Linked DNA regions of Homo sapiens. The protein of the gene in region 1 interacts with the protein of each later gene in a biochemical or structural test. Each region holds a gene or a part of one and is shown on either strand. Other genes may lie near its edges.

Evidence for each region. The genes of interacting proteins can lie anywhere in the genome.
Region 2: the proteins of HNRNPM (region 1) and CDC5L form a complex in vitro, tested with the Homo sapiens proteins (one study listed by BioGRID and IntAct).
Region 3: the proteins of HNRNPM (region 1) and LONRF2 form a complex in vitro, tested with the Homo sapiens proteins (one study listed by BioGRID).

The regions. Positions count from the first base shown.
Region 1 is NC_000019.10:8,461,953-8,468,981, reverse strand, and holds part of HNRNPM (heterogeneous nuclear ribonucleoprotein M), read right to left. Parts: intron 6,454-7,029; coding exon 6,401-6,453; intron 5,486-6,400; coding exon 5,478-5,485; intron 5,390-5,477; coding exon 5,296-5,389; intron 3,659-5,295; coding exon 3,467-3,658; intron 2,748-3,466; coding exon 2,594-2,747; exon of another isoform or gene 2,368-2,593; intron 1,481-2,367; exon of another isoform or gene 1,448-1,480; coding exon 1,398-1,447; intron 209-1,397; coding exon 148-208; intron 1-147. UniProt on the Homo sapiens protein: Pre-mRNA binding protein in vivo, binds avidly to poly(G) and poly(U) RNA homopolymers in vitro. Involved in splicing.
Region 2 is NC_000006.12:44,383,638-44,390,725, reverse strand, and holds the start of CDC5L (cell division cycle 5-like protein), read right to left. Parts: upstream 3,021-7,088; 5' UTR 2,903-3,020; coding exon 2,858-2,902; exon of another isoform or gene 2,807-2,857; intron 459-2,806; coding exon 355-458; intron 1-354.
Region 3 is NC_000002.12:100,271,355-100,277,510, forward strand, and holds the end of LONRF2 (LON peptidase N-terminal domain and RING finger protein 2), read right to left. Parts: 3' UTR 521-6,156; downstream 1-520.

The DNA of each region.
Region 1 (7,029 bases):
TCTCACCCTGAAAAATCTATAGAAAAGAACTGGCCAAGAGAACTGAGGGCTAACCTGGCACAGGTTCAAGTGAAACCATATGGTAATTTTCTGTTTATTAGTGTAACTCCAATTCAAACTCTCAGCCCTAATCACTGAAACACTTACGGGGAAGTTGTTGTGGACGCTCAGGAGGGAAGAAATCTCCTTTTGGTAAGGCCCTCTCATCCTGAAAGAGAAAGAAAACAAACAAATCTCAGTATCCAGTGCAGCAGTGTTTGCAACAGCAAAAGACTGAAATGGCCCCCCATCAAGAGAGGACCAGCTAAACACATTATCCACGCCATGGAGTAATACGCAAGGGTAGAAAGGCATGCGGAGCATGCTTCCTATTTTATGTCAAGGGAAAAGACACATGGATATTATTGTGGGGGATGATGGGGACCTGGGCAAGAAGTCCAAGTAGGACTCACACTATCTTCACACTACCTTTTCATGCCTTTTGACTTTTGAGTCACGTGAATCTATCATCTATTCAAAAAACTTACCTACTCTATTTAGAGTAATGAAAAAATTGCTTTATAGTTTATCTTTTTCCTGAATTTGAGTCCCAACTAGACTGCCCTCAGCATGTTCCAGTCATGCCTGTAGTAATTATTATCTTTGGCACAGTTACGGCAGAGCAAATGTTTATTAAGATTGAAGTGCTCCAACAGACCTTTAAAAGCTGTCTGAATCAATGACTTAATTATGTTCACAACAGATTTGATGCTAACCAAACATTATACTGTAATACTTTGAAAAACTGGAACCCCACATATATAACCATTCTTTGAAACGGATCACTTGCTCAACCAGGATACCCAGGTGACTTCCTGAATGCGCCATGAACAGTCAACTGTGCAAAAGGAAAAATATCTAATGCAGTCAAGAGCTGCCATGAGCAAAATGTTTTTTTTTCTTCTTTTTTTTTCTTGAGACAGAGTCTCACTCTGTTGCCCAGGCTGGAGTGCAGTGGCACGATCTCGGCTCACTGCAGCCTCTGCCTCCCACGTTCAAGTGATTCTCCTGCCTCAGCCTCCCGAGTAGCTGGACTACAGGCGCGTGCCACCACGCCCGGCTAATTTTTGTATTTTTAGTAGAGACGGAGGAGTTCCACCACGTTGGTCAGGCTGGTGTCGAACTGCTGACCTCATGATCCGCCTGCCTCAGACTCCCAAAGTGCTGGGATTACAGGCGTGAACCACCACGCCTGACCAGCAAAATGTTATTTCTCTCACAATTTTGCTCAACATACTGCACCCTATTTAACTTAGACTAATCCACAAATATTTCATAGTGGCTATATGTACACTCTTATTAATTCCATGTTTTTGCTAGACTTGAGTATATCACAGAGAAAGATCCTACTGACTTACCATCTTGACGTGCATTGGTCTATCAAATAGCAGCTGGCCATTGAACATAGCTGGTATTACAATTAAGGCTATTTCTTGCAATTCTAAAAATGTGCACAAGAGAAATACAAAAAGAAAGAAAAATACTCCAACTGCTACCAGTCCCTCTAAGTGATGAATTTATGAGCAATTTCAATTCTTCATTATACTTTCAACAATAAACATAAAAGGAACAATAAATAAAGCTGGCGGGGAGGACAAGACAACTTCCGCTTATTCCTTAGGTGTGAAGCTTCATTCGTAACCTTACAATTTCACCAAACCATCCTCTTAAGCAGTGGCATCAAGGTTCTCTGAATGTGACCAATGGGCCAGGCATCTACCACTATCTAAACTGAAGGACCATGTTTTCTGGGTAAGACATGCAGTGACGGTCTTGTCTGAGTTGTATGAATGTGCTCCTGTGGGGTACTCTCCAAGGGATTAAAAACTCTAGGCTAAGCCTAGGGTCAAGGAGAAGTGGCCTCTTCCAAAATGATGTCTACTCACTGGAAAGAGTGAGGTCCTATAAGGATGTATTACACATGAAACAACAACCCCACTTTCTCTCTAGTAGCACATTCTTTGGACTTCCTCCTTCAAACCTAGACTCTTCTGAAAAGAAAACAGTAGAAAGACTCATGGGCATATGCCCATGTTGTAACCATCCCCTCTATCCACACTGTATTGAATCAATTCCACCCCCAGAGAACCTTTTTTTTTTTTTTTTTTTTTTTTGAGACTGAGTCTCACTCTATCACCCAGGCTGGTGGTGTGCAGTGGCGCAATCTCGGCTCACTGCAACCTCCACCTCCCGGGTTCAAGCGATTCTTGTGCCTCAGCCTCCCGAGTAGCTGGGATTACAGGCACCCACCACTGCGCCCAGCTAATTTTTGCATTTTTTAGTAGAGCCGGGGTTTCACCATGTTGGCCAGGCTGGTCTCGAACTGACCTCAAGTGATCCGCCCGCCTTGGCCTCCCGAAGTGCTGGGATTACAGGCGTGAGCCACCGTGACCGGTCCGGCCCAGAGAACCTCTTAATTCCACAGTAATGCACTCCCCCTAGTCACATAAAAAACATGAATACACACAGTCACCTCTTCCTCACACAAACCTACATTACTAACACAGCAATTTAGGTCAAACTGTTCATAAGTTGAATTCCTGCAGAAGGATACATATAGCTTGCACAGCTTCAATGGACTGTTCAAAAGTAACAGTGCCTATTCCACGACTTTTTCCATCTTTATCTTCAAGAATGTCTGCTCGGACCACCACACCAGCCATACTAAATACTTCCTTCAGTTTCTTCCAGCCAACTTTATAATCCAGCTAATCGAGAGAGAACGGGGTAAAAACCTCAATGTAAACATCTTAAGAAACACAACATTTTTACTACATGAATGATACATGCTTTGGTTGGAAAAAAGTATTAGGAAATAATGTCACAAAAACTAATCAACTGCAATGGAAATTTTAAAATAGGATTATAAAGCCTGGCCTTCACTGTAAATAAACTGTACCTATAGTAAATATATTGTCTCTTTTCTCAGAAACTTAAGTCACCTCATACTTCAAATTAATACTCATTTTCTGAACATTTTTAAAAAATTGTTTCCCTGATAAGCTTTACCACTCCCCACCCCACCCAACCTACTTTATTCTAAAAATATTTCCCCTTGCAGATGGTGGAGGTATTATCATTCACCCCAGACACAACAAGAGGAAGGTGTCAGTGCACTTCTGCTCGTACAGTCTTACTCTGCACCAAAACTGCATAAAATAAACCAACGGAGAATGCAGACTCGGTTACTGCTTGCGGAAACACCTGCGAAACTCAGGAATCACAGCCCCAACGAGACCACGGTCAAGCCTGTGACTTAGGAATGCAGACAAAGCCCGCCTATAAGGCTGATTTTTAAAGAAATCAAGAACAAAACCCTTCTTTACATTTTTCTTCTCAAATGTGAGAATTACTTTTATAACATATTGACAAGGTCATTTCATAAAGTTCTGATTTTCTACTTTAGACGATGGTTCTGTTTACTTACATTTGCTACAAATACTGTGCTTCCAAGTCTTCCAGCCTGTAATGCATGGATAATCTCATTTGGGATGTTGGGATTATTTAGGATACTGGGTGGGATAGTAATCATTCCTGGGCCACCTGGTCCCATACCCATCCCACCAGTCGTAGCCATCACCTTTTGCATTGCTCTCCTGGCATGTTCACCATCAGGATCCTAAAACAAGCACAAAAGGTGTTACGTTTAACTGACCCAGTACAACGCAAACCATGCTTGCACAGTAAATGATATTCTCAAGACTTAGAAACTGAAAGGTTGTTTGGAAAGCATCTCTCAAATCTATTAACAAGAAAGTCAAATGAACTCAACTACCAGCTTAGAAGAGTCCAGCTAAAGAAATAGGAAAGGAAGAAAAGGCATGAAGTGTAGCACTAAAAACACAGCTCTCAATTGCACTAAGTAAAAAAGAAAAGCAGGGTAGGGAGGGAAACATGATTAGCTGATATAATGTAGAACCGCCAGACTGAAATTAGAGCTTCATGGGCTTGGTATAGCTGAATCTTACTAATTCATCAATGGGGTTTTGTAACTTCTGCAAACCCCGTCAATGGCTTCCAGAAGTTTGAGAAACAGTTCTAGACCACACAAGCGCCCCCATCCTTCAAGTCCTTCAGGTGTTGGAGGCGTGTGTGTGAGGGCTGCGCAGTAAAACAACATCTGGGAAGGTCTGTGAAGCTCTGTACTGACTCTCTTCTTCAACTCTCTGTCCTGTCAATTACCACCATCAGCACTAAAAAAGACATCATAACACATGAGAGACCTTAGACCCTACCAAGCTTCACTCTGAATCTACTCATCTTCCTCCCCAAGAGAAGAGGTGAAAAGAAGTTAAGAGGGATGTTTTTTTGAGACAGAGCTTTGCTCTTACTGCCCAGGCTGGAGTTCAATGGCGCGATCTCGGCTCACTGCAACCTCCGCCTCCTGGGTTCCAGCGATTCTCCTGCCTCAGCCTCCCGAGTAGATGGATTACAGGCACCCCCCACTACGCCCAGCTAATTTTTTGTATTTTTAGTAGACAGGGTTTCACCATGTTGGTCAAGCTGGTCTTGAACTCATGACCTTGATCCACCCACCTCAGCCTCCCAAAGTGCTGGGGATTACAGGCGTGAGCCACTGCGCCCAGCCAAGAGGGATTTAATCAACAAAAAAACCTTCTTCCTCAAGGAATATATTTGATTCAGATGAGATGTGAAAGCAGGTTTGAGGAATAACAAACTCACTTTATTTTTTTATTTTTTAGACAGGGTCTCACTGTTGCCCGGGCTGGAGTGCAATGGTGCAATCTCAGCTCACTGCAACCTCCACATCCTGGGCTCAAATGATCCTCCTGCCTCAGCCTCCCAAGTAGCTAGGACTACAGGCATGCGCCACCATGCCTGGCTAATTTTTGTACCTTTTGTAGAGAGGGGGTTTCACCATGTTGCCCAGGCTGGAACAAACTCACTTTTTAAAAAAAGAAAAAAGATGGGCCAAGAAGAAGGGTCAGATGGAGTAAAACTTAATGGCACAAACCCACGGGCTCATGGTTTGAGAGTCCCTGAGACAACAAGGCCTCAGACAAATCACAGATATTAGAAGGTGGTCAGCAGCCACTCAGGATCTGCTTGGCCACCACCCCAAAGTCCTTGCAGGGAATGGCTGCTGTAGGCTATGACCGACACTCTTCATTAGAAACAACAGGCTGGCACTTGCTTTGTAAATGCCGTCTGGGACCATGACCGTCTTTCCCTAATTCCAAAGTAGGATCACTCAACAATTACACACAGTATCCGCAGTGTTAAGCAAGAGCTTACTTCTTTGACTTTCAGTGGTCTTCCGCTCAGACTATGCTTGTTTAGGACTTCCGCAGCTTTTTTCATGCTCTCTTCCATCTTGAATTCAACAACACTATAGAGTCAAAAGGAAACGAGTCGAGTGAAACCAGTCCTACAAGTTAGAAGGCTCAAATACCAATAAGTAACTAGACGATACTTACGCACATCCCTTTGGAGGAAGCCAGAGACCAGTCAGAAGAGCAAGGAAGGGGAAAAAGAAAAGAAAAAAATAGTAAATATCAATGACAGTTATAAACAAACTAAAAATATGATTTATGTCACAAAGTTAGTCTTTTAAAATGAACCCTTCTAAGGGGAAGCTGACAGAAGTGCCTCGCCTCGCCTTCCTTGTTAAAAGCTGGGCTCCTTAATATCTCCTTCTCCTACGCGTTACCAGCATTGCACTAGAGCTGCTGACATTTAATAAGCAGACCTAAATTCAGGGTCTCCAAGAAATCACACCAACTTTAGATCTGCTTCCCTCTGTACTCAATCGAGTCCTTACCATATTCCTCCTAAATCCATCCCTTCCGTAAGTTAAGCTCATCCTTTTGATTATTCTAAGCCATTCTATTGCACGACAGAAAATAGTTTATGTTCTCTTTAAACTAGGCCAATTTTGAACATTCAGGTTTTTAATATTTGGTTTACAATTTACTGGCACAAAGGCAACTTTTCGGAATCTTTGGTTCACACAACTTTCAAATTCAGCAAACAACCAAGAGTAACATTTTCTAGACAAGAACACACGTTTTACATTAATTATACCACCGCTAAAATTCCATGCATAATTCACACACAGCCAATTCCTCTGTTAACAAAGAGACAATGCTGCTATTGGTCCCCAGTTATCCAAATTGGGCATCCAAACAGAATACCAAAAAGCTCTTTGGCCAGCCATTTGGAAAAGCGGGACTCCCATTTGCAAATCCCCTCCCACCCCACTCAAATGTTTGGCAAAATCAAACATAGCTACTGTAACATGAGCACTCACTGCCTTCCTGATTTCATTCGATTCCACGCCACCATACAGTTACATTTTTCATGTAGTAAATCCACAGAAGAAATTCTCTCAGACACTTACCCTTGACTTTCCTTCAGCGTCCATTAAGAGCTCCACGTATGTTACCTCACCAACTACAAATCAGTTTCCAGACGACACATAAACCAAGGGAGAAAAGCCAAGAAAACAATGGGAATTTAGAACAATCATCAGCAACCTTGTATGGAGCCTCTGCCTTATAAGAAAGCCCAGAAACACTCCATATTCTCTAAACCACCGAACTAGGCATTACAGGTGTGCAGTAAAAGTAGGTGAAAACACGTTAACAATATGTCCTTGATTTTCCTCCCACCACAAACAAGCTATTCCACAGATTTCCGTATCAATTTCCCTGTCTGGAAGACTCATTCATGACTAGAGGCAATCCAAATCTATAGGAAAGAAGTCTGCGTGATTTACTTTTCTGGGGAAGGGAGGAGGTTTTACACATACGCTCTCATTGGTGGCAAGCAGGTGAAATGCATACAAATTGCGATGCCATCGGGCTGAGCTCACATGCTATAAATACAAGGACGCACGTATGCGAAGGTATAAGCTCACAGGCACACACGGCCGCAGGGCCAGCTTCACAGGTGAGCAACTCGTGCAATTGTACAGAGCCCCGCACTCAGGGGCCCTGAGCTTGGTTTAATGCTGTTATCGCTGCCATG
Region 2 (7,088 bases), on another chromosome or scaffold:
ATTTACAAGCTGGGGCTCATCTGTCCCTGAAAGTAGACTTTGTATGCTTCACAAAGCACTCTCAAATACATTAACCCATTTAGATGACAACTCACATCTCTATCAGTCAGGACCAAGTATTATTATCCCTAATTGGGAGAAAACAAGGGCAGGGGAGAGGGATAGAAAAATGGCTTGCCTAAGACCACACAGGAAGCAAGTGACAGCTAAGTCAAACACCCAACTTCCATCTCCCACTCCATGCCTTGTTATATTACAATGTCTGCTTTCTTTGATAAGGTTCACAGAGTTGACATTTTCCATCATCATAATTAAGCTCCTTTTCTGTTTTCCACTTATTAAACTGATACATACCATCTGGCTTTGCACTGCTTTGCTGATTTTCTATGCAGCAATGAGGCAATCCTAGACCACTGATTTTTCCCATATTTCATTACCGCTGCTTTCAGAATTTCATCCTAAAAAAAATTGCCAAAGAGTACATTCAGTCACAAAACTCCAAGTGGGAAAAGACAAAATTTAAATTAACTCTGATAGGGCTATTGGAGAAAGAGACATATAACATGCACATACACACCACCTAGGTTAAAAGACTAAGGATGAAAACCTCATTAACTATAATAACAGCAACCAAGAATTGAGAAATTAAGAAGAAATCCCTTAGAAAGACAGCTACCCACCCTTACACCACACTCTCCAATAAATTGGGAGTGGGAACAGCCCAATCTGAGAAACCCTACTTTATGACAAAAATTAAGAAAAAGTATTCTTCAACGTGTGGCTGTCCTTCTCTTCAAAAAGGATAACTAAAAAACACAACAACAACAAAAATGTATAACTCATTCATTTATACACTCACTCAAAAAACACTTCCTGAACATCTACCTTGAAACATCTACCTTTCCCTTGGGGAAAGGTCTTATCAAACAGGACATATCCAGGCCTCAAGAAGCAAGTTGGGACTCTGGTGAATATATTCTCCAATCCAAGCCTCCTGTCTCAAGTTTATACATGGCATTTCCCCTCCAGCCCCTTAACCCCAACTATGACCCAAGAATCCACATCTCAGGTCTAACCTAAGAATTACATATTTCTACCCCAACCCCACTAGTCAGCTCTCCTTCCAATTTCCCCCCATCTCTAGATACCATTTCACCAGGGCACCCATTGCCATGTGGAATGCACCAACCTCAAGGAAGCCTGGCAAGCCAAGCCAAAGACAAGAAAGTTAATGGAGCCATAGATGCATGCACTTAGGCGATTTTACTTCTAGGCTTTTTTTCCCACATTGGATTTGAGGTACGTGCCTCTTGAGATACCCCACTCCATCCTCTACATCTCCCATGATCAAAGATACTTTTTAAAAAGACTGCAGAGCTTTGACCACTGCATAGGAATCCTACTGTTACTTGATTTTATATCTGTCTCTCCCTCAGAAGTCATCTCTTCTCCAATTTAAACAGTCTGGTTCCCTCGGTGGAAGCTGAGGCAGTTTTCATTGTCTTTTTTGTAACTTGGTTGCAGTACAACTACACTTAAACACATTTTCAATTAAATAGATACAGCAGATACCTACTCTACTTGATTCATTCTGCAAATACCTGTCGAGCAACCTACTTCATGTTGGTTACTGTCCTAGGTCCTAGGGATACCAAGACCTGGTCCTCTCGCCATGCTGTCTGGTGAGGTGAAAGAGCAACTAGCTCTTACTCAGAGGCTACTATGTGCCCTACTCTGATCTAAATATTCCAAACGTATTAACTCGTGTAATCCTCAAGAGAGGTTAAGTATTATTATCCCAATTTAGAAAAAGTAGAAAACTGAGGCTTTCAGAAGTTAAGAAACTTACCGAGTACCACACAGAGGATGTGATGCTTACAAAAAGACAAAGCAAGTTTTAACAAACGGAAGAAAAAGGTATCATGAGAATATCGGGGGTGCAATTAATTCTTACAGAGATTCCAAGAAGTGTTTCCGAACTAGGTTTGAAGGATGATCAGAAAGATGTCAAGCGCTAGGAAGGCAAAAGATGTAAAAAAAAAAAAAAAAAGAAGCCATAAAATGTAACGAAAAAAAGACACAGAGCATGAAAAGACATGATGTGCTCCAGAAACTGATAAATTCGGTACACTCTGAACACAAAACGCACTAAAATCTAATTTCTATTTCACTCCCACTCTACTGCCCTTTGGCTCACCAATGGCACTATCCACTACGTTTCTGGAAACAGAGACTATCCTAGGCCAGTTTTTCCTTTCTGGCTTCTATCTAGGCAAAGGCAGTGACAGAAAGAGACAGACCTTGGGATCTGTCGAGATGGCAGACAGGTTATGCCCTGATAACAGATAACCAGAGAGATGCGGGCATAAACGGGCTCTCTGAACCTGGCACTCAAACTGCTTCCCCTCTGCAAGGAAGTCAATGGAGACACAAAGTTGTGGCCACGGCAACTTCTTTATTTCTGAGTATGAGACAGAGTCGTGGTGCCTGGACTAAGAGTGGATGGTGCCCCGGGGGACCAACTCTGGCTGAGTTGGAACTCTGAGTTCTTCCCGGGGCCGGGGGGGGCGGGGGGGCGGGGTGGGAGGGGGCGTATTCAAGTCAACAAATGTTCACTCAGGGCCTAACAAGTGAGCTTGGAGCCGAGTAGCCAGGTGGTGACATCACGGTCCCTGTCCTACTGGCGCTCGCACAACACGGGGCCAGACACACGGAAAGGGCCCCAAGGGTCAGCCCCCGGGCTGCCCTCCACGCAGACCCCACAGGGTCTCCTCGTCGCCCCCCCGACCTCCGCGCGCGTGCGCACAAGCTGCTAGAGGGAGCGGCGGGCAGCGGACGGCGGGAAAAGGAGACTTACCTCGGTATTCCTCCATACGCCCCCCTTGATCATAATTCGAGGCATCTTGGCGGCAGGGTGTCTCGGCAAGCAGCCGAGAGGAGCTTCAGAGAAGTAGTAACAGCGATTGGGCCACCGGACTCAAAGCCGCCACTTCCTCCAAGCGCGACCTTCTGCTTTGAAGATCTGCGCAAGCGCAAGGTGGGAGGGGGCGCAGAATAGCAAGTCTCGCGAGATATTGGGTGGCTGAAAGGGAAAAAGTGTCTTGTGGAAGCTCAGCTGCAGGAAGACTAACACAAAACCATCAAACCACTCTGGCCAAAGCGCCTTACGCCCCGCGCATGTCCAAAACAGAATGGAAGAAACTACGGCTCTCGCGAGATAGCGGCGGTAGCGCTTGGCTGGGAACTTAGTGGTGGGATTGATCGTGACGTCACCGAGTGGCAGAGGGTGGGAACGTCACGCGTACGGAATTTCAGCACAGTTGCTCCGAAGAAGGCTTTGTTAATTTATTAATCTAGCCCTTTCAAGTATTTCAGTAATAGGAATTTATTCACAGAATACTCAGGAAAATCCAGTAGTTTATTTAAGGCTCAGTTTCCTAACCTGTAAAATAGAGATCATAGTAATGCCAACCTCACAGGATTGTCGTAAGGGCTAAATGAGATCATAGACCCAGCACAGTATCTGATCCATAATAACTGCTGCAAAACAATAGCAGCTATTACTGCAAGGAGGGCAACGCCAACTTCACCCCGTCCCCAGGTGATCCAGGCTTCTTCCAGAAACCTGCAGAAACGTCACGTCAGAGTTTTTAATTCATCGCCCAGTCTGGATTAATAATGCCATTGGTACGCACTGGTATTAGACAAAGTCGAGTTGGGTTGAAATATTGTGAAATCTTGGCTTTCTCATAAGTTTGGGTAATAACCTTACTGAATCTCAGTATCCTCATCTGAAAAGTGGAGCTAACAATACCCGCCTCGTAAATGAGGAGGCAGATTAACTGAAACATAACTAAAACCCAGTGAGGTAGGGATTGGCAAACTCTCTGCTACCCCACCCCAATTACTCATGCAGTCTCCTTCATCCTTCCAGAACATCTCTGGCTCCATCCCTGGAAAATATCAAAATATTTAGTGGGTTGGGAAATGCCCTATTTATAGTACTTAGTATTTATATAGTGCCTATCTCTTTATATTTCTTCATTTCTCCGTTTGCCTCTTCTGGAAGAGCTACAGAATTTTCTTTTTCCTTTTAGCTTTTATTTACACACATTCTGTGCAATTATGGTCAGCAAGAGGGCATTTTCCATGGCCACCCTGGTAGTGTTTGCCACTCAAAGGTTTATGCTGGCGGGCAGCCCGCCCTTGAGCTGTTTACCCACTGTGTGGTGTATAAGAAACCATTGGACCTGTGGCCAGTTAAACTCAAACAAAATGTTTTCATTTGGACCTCTCCTGTAATGGGGCGGTTTTTTTTTAATTTGTTATATTTAATTTTTGTGGGTACATAGTACACACATATTTATGGGGTACATGAGATATTTTGATACTGGCATACAACACATAATAATCACATCAGGGTAAATGGGGTATCCATCATCTCAAGTGTTTATCTTTTGTTTTACAAACAATCCAATTATAATCTTTTAGTTAATTTAAATGTACAATTAAATTATTTTTTACTATAGTCACCCTGTTGTGCTATCAAATACTAGGTCTTCGAGATTTTAACACTGGAGCATAGAGGAGGTCAGTCTCTACTGACTGCTGAACATCCAACACGTGACACCCAGGAGTTGTCTACCACCATGTTTTGGACTAAGGGAAAAAAGCAGGTAAAGAGAGAGATGTAAGTCCTGACCATGTCAGAGTACCTGGATCCAGCATGTTCCTGAGTCCCAGCTGCATTCCTGTCCTTGCATTCTGATTATTAGTTTCCTATTTGTGTTAGCCACTTGGAATTGGGTTTCTATTATTTGTAAGGAAGAGTCCTAACAATTCCAGAGATGGACCAATACTCTGTCAGAGGCCTTTCAGATCTCACATTCCAAGAGTTGATGAAGGCTTCTCCCTCCCACTCAGGGCCACCTCTTTACCATATGTTACTTTTGTGAGAACTAGAAAAAGGTGCCCCTTCCTCAAGACACTTTATGCCACATGCTGGAAAATTGTCACAAAATACTGGTGTTCTGAGAACAGGGCACTCTATTACAAGAAAATTGGATCTACCATCTCCACTATGTGAATTCCACCCCTAGAGACATGCATTGTACAACTTACTCATCCAGGTAAAACAGCCCTGTCAACTGTCCCTCATTTCACCTTTGAACATGCAGATTGTATATTCCCTTTCAGAATTCAGAAAAATGCAACATCATGGAAGTTCCAGGATGTCTGAAACCAGAGCACTGTAGCCACAAACATCAGAACACAAACACACTGTTCTCCAGGATGGCCTGCTTGGCCAGCCTCCCCCACCATACTACTGCAGCCTCACCAGCCAGGTATGGGAACCCTTACAAAGAGGCCACAGGGACTGCCAACAATCTCTTGAGGGACAGCCATAAGAAGCATCTATCGTTAGGCAACCAGACTATATGGTCAGTCACTGTGAATCTTTGGTAAAGTGAGTGGCCACTGCTAAATAGTCTCACTCACCCAAGGCATTTTTCCCCAAACATGTTCCTTAGAACACCAGTTACATAAAATACTCCATTTAAAAAAAAACAAAAAATAAAAAAAAACATGGTTTTTATGTCCTCCCCTCTTGCAGAGTCACTGAAATTAAAGCCTGTAAGAAGCTGTCAGATGAAAAAATCTGTTTCTCCCTGTTGAGAGTTGAATTGTATTCCCCCCAAATAGATATGTTCAAGTCCTAACCCCTGCTACCTGTAAATGTGACCTTATTTGGAAATAGAGTCTTTGCAGATGTAATCAAGTTAAAATGAGATCATACTGGAGTAGGTTGTCCCTAAATCCAATGAGTAGTGTCCTTATAAGTGGAGAAGAAAAAAGATACAGACACACAGGGGGAATATCATGGGAAGAAAGAGGCAGAGATTGGAGTGATGCAGCTCCAAGCCAAGGAATGCCAAGGATTCTGGCAGCCACCAGAAGCCAGGAGAAGGCATGGAACACATTCTCCCTCTGAGCCCCAAGAAGGAGCCAGCCCTGCTGACACTTTGATTTTGGACTCCCAGCCTCCAGAACTGTAAGAGAATACATTTCTCTTGTTTTAAGCCACTTAGTTTATTGTGCTTTCTTGTGGCAGCCCTAGGAAGCTAATACACTCCTTTGTTAATACAGCAGATCCTTGAATAACATCATTTTGTGCAAGATCGTTTCATGATAACATTGATGAGTCCAGGCATGGTGGCTCATGCCCGTAATTCCAACACTCGGGGAGGCCAAGGCAGGAGGATTGCTTGAGCCCAGGAGTTTGAGACCAGCCTGAGCAACATAGTGAGACCCCATCCCTACAAAAATATTAAAAATTAGCTGGGCATGGTGGTGCACACCTGTGATCCCAGCTACCCATGAGGCTGAGATGGGAGGATCACTTGAGCCTGGGTGGTCGAGGCTGCAGTGAGCCATGATCACACCACTGCACTCCACCCTGGGCGAGACCTCATCTCAAAAAAAAAAAAAAATCCGCTTGAGGCCAGGGCCACTGTCTGTGTGGGTTTCTTCCAGATACCCTGGTTTCCTCCCACATCCCAAAGCTGTGCAGGTGAGGTTCATTTGCAAGCCTGCAGTCTGAGTGAGTGTCAGGGTGTGTGAGTGTGCCCTGCAATGGGATGGTGTCCTGTGTGCTGTCCAGAACTGATTCCTGCCTTGTGCCAGGATAGGCTCCGGCCACCTGTAACCCTGAACTGGAATAAGCGGGAGTACATTTCTTGTTTTTATTAATCTTTCTTTTCTTTTCTTTTCTTTGAGACAGAGTCTCACTCTGTGCAGGCTGGAGTGCAGTGCCACAGTCTCGGGTCACTGCAGCCTTGACCCCCACCCCACTGGCTCAAGCAATCTTCCAACTTCAGCCTCCCGAGTAGCTGGGACTACAGGCGTGCACCCCCATGCCTGGCTAAGTTTTGTATTTTTTTGTAGAAATGGGGTTTCACCATGTTGCCCAGGCTGGTCTCAAACTCCTGAGCTCAAGTGATCTGCCCCCCTTGACCTCCCAAGGTGCTGAAATTACAGGTATGAGCCACCGTGCCCAGCCTAATCTTTCTTAAATGTATGCATAGCTT
Region 3 (6,156 bases), on another chromosome or scaffold:
GGATCAGTAAAAAATAAACCTTTGCCACGGAGAGCACTGAGATGTGGGGGATGCTTCTTACCACAGCATCATGTAGCCCATCCTGACTGAAACACCTGACTTCATGTGGAAAGGAAGGAAAAGATCTCAAGAACATAAAGAGGAACCTGTCCAGAAGCATACGCCTGTTCATTTTTAAACATATTGATTCAATAGTCATTCCAAGCATATTCAGGTGGGTGAGTGAGGTGGACAGTTTTGTTTATAATAAACCTTGGTTAGTTTTCACCAAATCCACTGGCTCAGGCCCCAGTCAGTGGACACAGTCACTGGGCCTGGAGGGAGGCCCAGCTGGGGACACAGAGGTGGGCCACGGGGCCGGGAGGGGGCAGCTTTCTGGAGGAAAAGCCAAATGTTAAAATCAAATTAAATAAAAAATTTAGTTTCTCAGCCACACTAACCACATCGTCAGTGCTCAAAAGTGACATGTGGCTGGTGGCTACCATACTGTACAGCACAAATACAGAGCATGTCTAAGTACTCATTTTCCTTATGACTCCGAGCTTTATTTCCAACAATGTCCGTCATCACAGAAAGTTTCATCCAACAGTGCTGAAGGAGTTAAGATTAGTCACTGCATGAGGAAGCGGGAAAATGCCTGATCCTTACAACTCACATATAAAAGACTTCATCAGAGGTTTTCCCAGATTTGACAACCATCCTATTTAAATGACATTACCAATAATGACTTGTGAAAACTGAAACTTTTAGTCTATGATTTTTGCCCCATATCCATGTTAGAGGAAGAACTTAAATATCATTCTCTCTTTAGTAACCAACACAAGATTGTCCTAAGAAGAAAAAGATGATCAAAGAGTATGCAGGGTTAGGTGCAGTGGCTTATGCCTGCAATCTCACACTTTGGGAGGCCAAGGTGGGAGAACTGCTTGAGCCCAGGAATTTGAGACCAGCTTGGGCAACACAGCTAGACCTCGTCTCCATAGAAAGTAAAAAAATTAGCCGGGTATAGCGGCATGCACCTGTGGTCCCAGCTACTCAGAAGGTTGAGGCAGGACAATCCTTTGAACCCAAGAGGTTGAGGCTGCAGTGAGCTATGCTTGTACCACTGCCCTCCAGCCTGGATGACACAGCAAGACCATGTCCCCCAAGAAGAAAATAAATAAATAAATAAACAAACAAACTAACCAGAGTATGTAGGTTAAAAAAAAGAAAAAAAAAGATGGGAAAGGTATCATAAAGGTGCCAGGAAGTTAATAAAAATACTTTTCAGTATTTTGTAGAGTGTTATGCTGTTTTAAATATTGTAATTTATGCCTCTAAAAATTCCAAATAAATATATGCTTTCATAGTTAACTCAGTATTTGCAATTCATATTCCTTTTCTTAAGAAGCACTACCCCCTTCCTCCCAAATAAACAACTATACAAGCTTCAGTTCTTATTAAATCTTATCTGCCTTGGATAGAAATGATTTTTAAAAGTAATTATGGTTTTAAGCCAAAGCCATTGGCAGCCCTCTTTCCTTTTTTTTCCTACTAAAATTAAATTGGAATCGTTCCACATCTGCACTGTGTTGAATACTGTTCCTCTAAAATTCATGTCCACTAGAACCTGTGGATATAACCTTATTTGGAAATACAGTCTTTGCAGATGTAATCAAGTTAAGATGAGGTCATCCTGGATTAGGGTGGAAGTTAAATCTAATGACTGGTGTCCTTATATAAGGAAAGGGATATCTGGACACAGACACACAGAGGGAAGAAGGCCATGTGACGATGGACACGGAAACTGGAGTGATGCAGCCGCTGGCCGAGGAAGGCCGAGGTCGGCCAGCAGCCACACCAGCTGGAGGAGATGAAGGAGGAGTTTTCCTGGGGCCTTCAGAGAAAGCCCGGCCCTACTGGCACCTTGGCTTTGGATTTCTAATGTCCAGAAATGTGAGCGAAGAAAACTGATTTATTGTGAAAAGCCGTCAGTCTGTGGTGATGTGTTAGTACATCCCTACGACACAAACACAAAGGCCTAGGCACTGATTTGATCTAATTTCTCATCAGTCTAGCCTATTACTTAGGTGTGATTATTTATTAAAGAACATTTACAACACTGTAAGTTTTATTCAGTTCAAATATCACATATTAGATATACAATACCAATTAATTGAAATGAACAGTACAAGAATACATGAAGTAAATATCATAACATTTAAGTTTCGTCTCACTTAGGCAACAAGAAATGCTGAGTAGTATTATTACATATTCAAACCAGACTTAAACTTCAGAAACAGAAGGCCAGATGAGTGACCTGTATCACAGGATATGACAACACATCACCTATCTCCAAACAAGAAAAAGCATGATTATTAAGTTTATCTACACCAGCTTATTTATTCAAATTTGCTCTTCTTATTAAACAGAAAAAAAATACACATTCAATTCCTAATTGGTAAAATCATTTCACAACTCTAAAATTAAGATGCTAATGACACCACTCTCCACTAGCATGAAAGAACAATATATGAATAGAGTACACAGCTTTCCAACCTATTAACAGGTTCTTATTTTCAGAATTGAGTGGGAAATTGTGTGTGGGGTAAACAGCATGAGAGAGAAGTCGGTCACTGGTTGAACTGTTCACAGTACAAAAAGGTGACAAAACTATGAAAGTGAAAATACTATGGTAAATAACGAAGGCCCCAATGCAATTTTTGAAAATGATCCCTGAAAAGCAAAAGGTTAGAGATACTCATGTTGCAAACTCCATCTTCATCCTTCAAAGGTCACATGCGCCAACCAGCCGAGACTCATGACAGTAAACTTCCTCAGGGTTCTCTATTATGATCAGGGCCAATCCTTCACCTCGAGGGCTGTCGTAGTACCCCGGGAGCCTCACATGACTCTCTCAGCCCCTCCCTGCTCTGAGTGACTGAGAGAACTTCCTTAGCTGCAGGGCTGCAGGCAGGTGCTTCTGCTCCTGAGCTCCTAAACACACCAAGGGGTGCTTGAAGGTCCAGGCCCGCCCCTCTCTAGAGGAAAAACCTACTCATTTGAGACTACAAACCTCTTCTAGAAGCTGTAACCTGAAATGCTAGAATGAGCTTATATTAATCATGCTTTTTTATAATGTATAATGTTTTCACATCTTGGGGACCTCACTGACTGGGGAGAGACTGCCCTTCCCAGGGCAGGCCAATTCTTAGAGATAGCAAAGGGGTCCCTTGGGAGTGCACCTTTGCACACTAACCAACTCAGAGTCCATCTCCTCGATTTGACTCTTCCACTGCAGAAGGCAGTATCCCCTCACCCTGATCACCCAGGGCCAGGCACCAGGCAGCTGGAGACCACCCCTGTAGCTACTGCCCAAGACATTCAAACCTGCCAATCCTACACTCTGCCCCCGCCCATCTTCGCCTTTGCCATGGAGACACAGTGGAAAGCTGCTCGCCTAGTTCTGCCTCCTGACCACTCTGGTGCGTCCTCCTCCTGTGGCCCTGCGTGGCCTGGTGCGCTCCTTTTCTCCAGAAATGCAAGTAACAAACTTTTCTTTCAATGACAGCAGCCTCTCCTTTATGAATTAAACGTGGGTACATTTCGATACCACGGGCACAGTGAGCAGGGTGAGTCCGTGTGTGGCACAGGGCATGCCTCGCCTCTTGGCTGCGCGTGGCTTACTAACTGGACCCCCACCCTGGGGAGCATGGCCGCTGCTGGCATGTTTGCACTTTGGCTGCACCACGTATGCTGTGTCTGCCAGTGTCTGTGACAGTCCAGCCTAAATTATAAGAGGACTGAGCTCATTCAGTCCTTGGTGCTGCAGACTAGGGTGATGTCAATCGCAGTCCCCTACACAGGACCTTCTGGGTATAATTGTATAATTGGATGCACTGGGTCCCTCTGAATTCCCTACCTGGACATACCTACTTTCTTGGCTGGTGGTCTCAGGGCAATGACGGTAGCTCCCTCCACAAGGAGCAAGGAACGGCTTTCCCTGTGAGCTTGTGTTGGATGAGAGTCTGATAACCGAGCCAGCAACGCTGAAGTCAGTGGTGGGCTGCTCACCTGAGGGGCCCTCCCCCAGCATCCAGTGAGGAATTAATCGCACTCCTGGGCAAAGGATCTGGGTGTTGGTCTCCAAAGCGCTGCAGGGATCCTCCGGCCATGCGGCCGGTGAGAGGCACCCTCCTCACAGAAATGACAGCCGCCAAAAGGTTTAAATGTTGCTTTAAGAGCCTTGCAGCTGTTGTGACTCATTCCTCAATCCGGTGGGATGCAAAGGATCTATCCATAGAGACCAGTGGCTTGAGGTTTGAGGAAAAGGGGAAGGGGTGGGACACTTTGTTCCCACTCCCCTGAGACCTGCAGAAGCCCCTGAGCTACGTGAGCCTGTAACCACCCCCCACCAGTGTGCCTGGGCACTCTGAACACCCTGCCTGTCAACATGCTGGGACCGCCTCCTTCCAACTAAATTGCCACAAAATCAGAAAAAAAGGAAAAAGCGAGAAAAAGCCTAGGTACAAGGGAAAAAACATTAAAGGTAACTAAATAGACTGTGTATTTATGCGTGTGAGTGCATATACATACACATACACACATATATACACATGCAGATAGGCTATTTTAACGCAAATATATAATAAATTGTACATGTATATGTACATATGCAGCTAAACGGAAGGTCCCTAATCTGATCCAATTAGAAATCCAACGCTTATACACTAAAAATGTATACAACAAATTATATACTAATATTACAAATAAATAAGATGTATATACTGAAACATTTAACCAAAACATAAAAGGGTGCCTATTGGCTTTTGTGTCTCCATAACTTAGGTTCTAAATTAATTGTAACATTTGCTAAAATGTACCCATTGACAAAGCTTCATAGTCTTAACACTGGGGCTCAAATTACAGTTATACCTGGAGATCCCACTAAATCTAAACATTGTACCCCTATAATCTTTTTAAAAAGGCAACTAAATATAAAATGGGGGGTGGATGGGTAAGGTATGCTTCACTTTAACTGTAGCCTGTCTAAATTTCCTGTGGTCATAGTACCCAACGCCCTAATATCCCATATTGAACACAGACACTCTAATAAAACAAATAATAAATTAAAATTAAAGTCAGTCTTTGGCAGTTATAAACTAGCTTGATAAAATGATGCCCCATGGACCTCCAGTTAAAACAGTTAATATGAGGTATTCAAGGATTAAAACTTACTAATTAATAAAGGGGTGATTATACCCTTGTTTCTCCATTGAACAGCCCAATCTTTCCTATCCTTAAACCTGGAAAAAAACAAGTGTGCCTCATGGTGGATTACTACAACCTTATTGCTGCAGTCCCATCCATTACCCAATTTCCATTATTATTAAAATTATTAATTCTACACAATAAATAACTGGCCAATATTTTGCTCTTACAGATTTGGCTAACATGTCCCATTAAGTGTCTACTTGCACAGCTTCTTGGCTGCCGTTTGCCTTCTGCCCTGAGGGGCACATACACCTTTGCAGGCCACCCACAGGGAGCTCCACGGCTTTGCCATGGCACACAATGTCTGCAGACAGGGTCTTCACCACATCCGCCTTCTCCAGGAGCACAAATGAGGAAACTCATTGTCACACTCATTAAGGACATACAAGTCCAACATCTTTAGATACTTTCGAGGTTCTGATGGCAATGTAGTCCTCATTTACAAATTTTACTTAATCTTCTTGCTGCTGCTTACAAATCAGCTTGCTTTAAATGGGGCACCCTCCATAAACAACCTCTATAATCAAACCTTAAAATCCATGGGCACTCCTGTTGGTGCCCTCAGAGACCCCTTCATTATAGAAGCTCTGGCAAGCTCTATGCAGCCCTGGAGTCTCTGGCCCACTTAGGATGGACATAAGGTGCCTAAGGGCTTTGGATGCAAGAAACTATCCCTCTCAGCCTCATGCTACCCTATTAAAGCAGTAAATGGCTGGATGCCTACTGGGCTCTCCTGGACACAGAGGCTCTCAAAGACCTAAGCCTAGGACCCCAATCTCCAACTGTCCATTATAAACACCTGACAAGCTCAGCAAAACTACCGATGCCTCCTTAACACAGGACAGAGTCAAGCCTGGGCCCTCTGGTGTATTCTACCCACAGGAGGGTGGTCTCCCATGTCCT